2 separate regions of the Homo sapiens genome follow, and region 2 is linked to region 1. Evidence: fine-mapped expression QTL. A gene starts in region 1. The other region holds a variant in brackets. All regions are shown on one strand. Distances are from middle to middle.

Region 1 (2,903 bases):
AGTCCCAGCTACTCAGGAGGCTGAGGCAGGAGAATCGCCTGAACCTGGGAGTTGGAGGTTACAGTTAGCTGAAATTGTGCCACTGCATTCCAGCCTGGGTGACAGCACAAGACTCCATCTCAAAAAAAAAAAAAAAAAAAAAAAAGAAAAAAGAAAGAAAAGCAAAGAAAAAAAGACCCAGCTCAGTTGCCCTCTTCTTGGAAATTTTTTTCTGATGCCCCACGAGACACAGTGTGTCTGTTTCAGTGATCCCAGACCACCATATATTAGTGTGTATCTCACGGGATACTACCTGGCTGTCTCCAAACACACACAGGCCACACTGGACTCCTCTAGGCTATGGAACCATGCTTGGTAATCTCTGCTTCCTACACCCAGAAAAGAGGCTGGCACAGAGTTGATGCCCAGAGCACATTTGGATGAGTCCGGGGTTGTAAATCTGTGTGTGTGAGTGGGTCCTGTCTGTGTTTGCATTTGAGAAGTTGTGCTTTGTATCTGCAGATGTGAATAAGTATATTTATGGATAACCCTAGACATGGTCCTTAACTACTCTGTGACCCAGTTTCCTCCTCATAAAATGGAGATAGTAATAATATTACCCACCTTTAGGGGTTTGTGCAAGTTAAATGGGTCAATACATGTATTAACCATAGTGAGCACTCATTGAATACTGGTTATTATTTGCTGCCTCTCTGAGGGGGAGACTGAAGTTACGGGGATTGTGAGAGAGGGGAAAGGAGGCCCCTGTGCAATTATAATGGAGGGTAATAACTCCCTTTTCTGCTTAAACAGGGCCACTTCAGTAGCCTGATCGCCCATAAGTTCTATTAGGCACAGCATCTCTTTCTCCCCAGTTCCACCAGCTGCGACCAGTCTCCTTCCATTTTCCCTAGCCTCCCCTAACCTCTCTCTGCCCCACTCTTCCCCCACTTCTTCCATCAGTTTTCCCAGGGTCTTCCCATTCCCTCCATTTCTCTTCTCTTCTGAGCCTCTTCCCGTCTCCCCTAGATGTACCCCTATCTACCATCACCCTCAGTTCCCCTTTCTCCCCTCTCCCTGGGGCTGATTCTCCTACCCTCTCTGCTGGTTTCTTTCTCATGTTTCCAGTCATCCTGTTTCCCCTAGCCTCTTTCATCTCCCCCTTTTCAGGGGCTTAAATGTACTAACTCACCTTGGCTTTGGGACACGAACCAGTCCCCAAGACTCTGCCTGCCCTGTAGAGAGATCTAGCCAGCTGCAGACACAGATGCTGTGAGATAAGCTCTCCTGTGGTCTTGCCATGTGCCCAGATAGACTGAGATTCTCCAGAACCATCCTGAGGCAGGAGATGTGCCCCCGACTCACCATCTGAGGCGTCTTGGCTACAAAAGGCCCAGCCAGACAGCAGCAGTATCGGCAGCAATGTTGTCAACATCCTGAAGTTGAGGCTCCGGACCTGGGTTCCTGGCTCGGGCCGGCTGCGGGCTCCGCTGGCTGCAGTCTAGGGAAAAGAGAAGTGAGGACCGTCTGGGAGGGGCGGAGTCTGGGCAGAGGAGGATGGAAGGAGGCCAGGAGATGGGAGGAGGAAGAGGCTTATAAAGTGTTATTTCTACTGTGTCTCATTTCCTACTAGGGGGCCGGCCTCCCTCCTGCCCTCCCTCTGCCCCGCCCTTCATTGCTCCCTCCTGCCCAGACCTGCCTTTTCCCTTCTCCTTGGGCTGCTTCCTAGGAACCAGGAACAGGGAGCGGAAAAGGGGGAGAAGGGCTTGGTGAGAAGTCCTGCCGGCGCTGACTCAGGGGGTGGGGCATCTACTTTCAACTTAGAGCACACTCCTGGGAGTAGGATCAGCAGGTTGCTGATGGGGAGATTGAGGTCCAGAGAGGTGCAGGGACTTGCCCAAAGTTTATATATCATGGTGGTGACAGATCCAAGATTAAAATTTAGTTTTCCAGTATAATGGCTACATTTTACCAGAATTTTAAGTAAATAACAATTACATAATCCGGGATCTTGGTCTCAGAAGTAGTCATAAAATGAGTGTAAAGCAGTTCACTGCAGCATGTTTTTAAAAAATAGGAGAGAATTATGAGCAATCTGTATAAATCTCAGAAGATGATTGGTTACCTAAAGCAATCTTTTTGAAACTGAGGTCATAATTTATTAGTGGACAATGAAATCAATTTAGCAGGTCATGGTTACCATTTTTAAAAAATGAAATAGGACAGAATACAAAATTTCAGCGCGTCACCCTTAGTAAGAGAAAGTGTTATGTCATGAAATATTTGCTCAGTTGTATATGTGTGCTTTGGTTTTGTGTGTGTATGTTTCTATGATGAGTTTTGGATAGCAGTGTAAAATGCGTCCCTTACTCTAGGAAGCAAGTAGAAAAGCTTTAAAGTCACTCCTCCGAGCATGCTGCTGGCACTTTGGGAGGCCGAGGTGGGCAGATCACTTGAGGCCAGGAGTTTGAGACCAGCCTGGCCAATATGGCGAACGTCTCTACGAAAAATACAAAAATTAGCTGGGCATGGTGGTGCATGCCTGTAATCCCAGCTACTTGGGAGACCGAGGCATGAGAATCGCTTGAACCTGGGAGGTGGAGGTTGCAGAGGGCCGAGATCACACCACTGCATTCTAGCCTGGGTCATGCGGCAAGATTCTGTCTGAAAAAAAAAAAGAAAAGATTTCACTTCTGTTCAAATAATACATATGTAATTTCATCCTCATATATATATATAAAATTTATTATTATTTTTTTGAGACAGGGTCTAGCTCTGTTGCCCAGGCTATAGTGCAGTGAAGCAATCACAGCTAATTGTAGGCTTGACCTCCCGGGCTCAAGTGATTCTCCCACCTCAACCACCCGAGTAGCTGAGACTAAAGGTACGTGCCACTGTGCCACCACGCCTAGCTATTTTTTTTT
Region 2 (2,903 bases), 89 kb before region 1:
TTTACATTCTCTATGATGCAAAGACCTTTGTTCACGTGTTTGTCTGCTGACCCTCTCCCCACAATTGTCTTGTGACCCTGACACATCCCCCTCTTCGAGAAACACCCACAAATGATGAATAAATACTAAGGGAACTCAGAGGCTGGCGGGATCCTCCATATGGTGAGCGCTGGTTCCCTGGGTCCCCTTATTTCTTTCTCTATACTTTGTCTCTGTGTCTTTTTCTTTCCTAAGTCTCTCATTCCACCTTACGAGAAACACCCACAGGTGTGGAGGGGCAACCCACCCCTACAAGAGATGAAAAGGCCCTGAGCTGGCTGGGCGTGGTGGCTCACGCCTGTAATCCCAGCACTTTGGGAGGCTGATCGGGGTGGATCACTTGAGGTCAGGAGTTCGAGACCAGCTTGGCCAACATGGTGAAACCCCATCTCTACTAAAAATACCAAAAATTAGCCAGATATGGTGGCCTGCGCCTATAGTACCAGCTACTCCGGAGGTAGAGGCAGGAGAATCGCTTGATCCTGGGAGGTGGAGGTTGCAGTGAGCCAAGATCGCGCCACTGCACTCCAGCTTGGGCAACAGAGTGAGACTCCATCTCAAAAAAAAAAAAAAAAAAAAAAAGGATGCCCTGAGGTGGAGGGAGGGAGTGGGGACAAAGAGAGCAAGTCCTGGCAAACTGGCAGTCAGCTTCAGGAGACCCCGGGCAGGGCAGGTGGGGCCCGGGCGTGGGCAGCTCTCTGCAGGACCTTGGTTGTGGAAGCAGGGAACTGTTGGCTAAGATTGAGGCAGGGATTCAAGTGTAGGTGAAAACACACTCCAGGTCCTGGAAGTGGGACACAGGATCCTGAGGGTGGAACTGAGGCAGCTCCATGGCACGGTGGTTACGAGCTTGGGCTCCTGAGTAGGACAGATTACCTTCATTCCCCCTGCCAGTTTGTGAATATGGCCAGCAGGGCTACCCCTAAGCCTCAATGTCCTCACTTGTAAACTGGGGGCATCAGACCTACCTCACCGGGTTGTGTGAGGTTGAATAAGATACACGTGAAGTGCGTGGTATGACACAGAATGGCAGCTGTTGTAATCCTATGTAAGATAGAAGCTTGGTTACTGGAGGAAGCCCATTGACCAGAAAGGAAGCACGAGGCCAGTGGAGCGCCAGCAACCAGATCCTCTGAAAGCCAACTCCCCTGGGCTTCTGTATTGTGCCTAGGACAGGACAAGGAGGCCTGAACTTAGGGGGATGAAGTAACCGCAGCTTTGGGGAGAAAATGCAGGGGGTAGGGAGTCAGGTAGGCTGTGGATCACCAGTCCTGACTCCTGTCTGCCCAGTGTCAGACCCTTGCTTGCCTTGACCTCTGGCATTTGTAGCCCCTTGAGCCCTGCCTCTTATCTTCTGGCCCTAAGGCATGGCTCGGCCCATTCCTGCCACCTGTAAGTCCAGGGAGGCTGCCAGGAACCTAGGAGGTGGTCTAGAGTCCTACTGCCCACTCTGGCCCCAGCGTCACTGGCCTAGGGACACATGGGGGTGGGGATTGTTTGGCCTTCCTGGCTTAGGTCTCTGGAAGAGAGAAGAACCCCATGGGGCAGACCCAGGCCACGGGCAGTACATGCCTCCCACACTACTGACACCGCCAGTGTCTTCTGTGAAGCCACCTTTGAGCAACGGAAAGGAAGGGGGATGGGCAAGATCAGTGCAAGGTTGGCCAAAAGCCTGGGGCTGGCCTTCTGCTGGCATGAGAGGGCCAGGCCGCCCCCAGCTCCTT[A/C]CTCAGGTCCTGGCCCCTCTGGCAGCAGGGAAGGGTGAGCTCATCGCTGAGCTCCATCCCAAACAAACTGGTAGAGCCAGCGGAAGGCAGCTCTGCTTCCTGGGGTCCAGTCCTGGCTGTGCTCCTGGGCTATTCTATGACCTGGGACAAGCTGTTCAGGGCCTCTGTCTCCTGAGCAGGCTCTTCCCCAGGGGCTGTCCACAGGGAGCTCAGCTGGGAACCAGGGAACACGGCTCTGAGCACTGTGGGAGACTCAAAACCTTTGTCCGCAGCCTTGTCTCTTGCTCTTTTAACCCCTGTTCTGGGTCTGCAGAGAACAGGAGTGACCCCTTAAAGGAAAGAGGCCTGTGGTTTGGGTCCAGGAACCAAAAGGAAGGGAAGAGCGAGGGAGCCAGTATCCTGCTGCACAGAAACCCAAGAGAGCCCTGAGGGGGAGACAGAGGGAGCAGGGCAGGGGCAGGAGGACTCCCTGAGCTTGTGAGGTGAAGGCAGAGGTATGAGGAGGAGAGGCCTGCTATGAGGACCCCATGCTCCATGGGCAGGAGGCTGCTAGGGTCTTCACTCTTCAAGAGGGTGAGCGGCAGGGAAGCAGAGTGGTCAGGAATGCAGTCTCTGGGAGCCAGACTGCCTGGTTTTGAATCCCAGCTCTGCCATGTCCTAGCAGTGTGACATTTTAAATTCTTCCTCTGGAAGATAGAAGGAACAATGGCACCTTCGTCATAGGGATGTGGGTGAAGATTCATGGGGCAGGGTGTGTAATGCGCTGATACCAGCTCCTGGTACAGAAGTATTACCCTTCATTAGCAGGGTCCTGTTGAGCTGTGTGTGAGCACCAGCACCCCTGATAGGGTGTGTTCCTGTAAGTCCCTGGGCCTCCGAGCAAGTCCCCAGCAGTCTACTCGGCTACTCAAGTGGACCTTGTCTCTGCCTCATTTCTTTCTTTTAGGATCTCCATATTTGGTCGTTCCCATCTCATTAACTCCCCCAGCCCCACGAAAGGTGATAGCATTTCCCTTTGCCTCTGTTCTTCTGCCAGTGCTGCCCCTTCCCCTGGAATAACCTGATTCCTTCAAAGTTCAGCTCCATGCCTGTCTTCCAGGAAGCCTTCCATGACTTCCCAGCTGGCAGTGAGTGCTCCTT

Alleles and levels. Positions count from the first base shown, and alleles are read on the strand shown. Sizes are in standard deviations (SD) of each study's normalised expression.
In carriers of allele A in region 2, the expression in cerebellar hemisphere of the gene that starts at base 1,497 in region 1 tends to be lower than with C alone (moderate effect, 0.55 SD a copy in GTEx).

What was found. PIP is the estimated chance that this variant, and not a neighbour inherited with it, causes the effect.
Region 2: its variant is fine-mapped to the expression of PROCR in cerebellar hemisphere (GTEx, PIP above 0.99). The same link has a PIP of 0.9 or more in cerebellum.

The regions. Positions count from the first base shown.
Region 1 is chr20:35,170,666-35,173,568 of GRCh38, reverse strand. It overlaps PROCR (protein C receptor), which reads right to left and starts at 1,497. Exons shown (of 4, transcript NM_006404.5): 1 at 1,345-1,497. The coding sequence starts at 1,414. The region is part of intron 4 of MMP24-AS1-EDEM2 (MMP24-AS1-EDEM2 readthrough); the gene reads left to right.
Region 2 is chr20:35,259,514-35,262,416 of GRCh38, reverse strand. The region is part of intron 2 of MMP24-AS1-EDEM2 (MMP24-AS1-EDEM2 readthrough); the gene reads left to right. The region is part of intron 4 of MMP24 (matrix metallopeptidase 24); the gene reads right to left. Among named protein-coding and RNA genes, the nearest start is that of MMP24-AS1-EDEM2, 17 kb to the left of the region's middle. RefSeq lists enhancers at 1-381, 382-1,143. The variant A/C (reference allele first, on the strand shown) is at 1,764.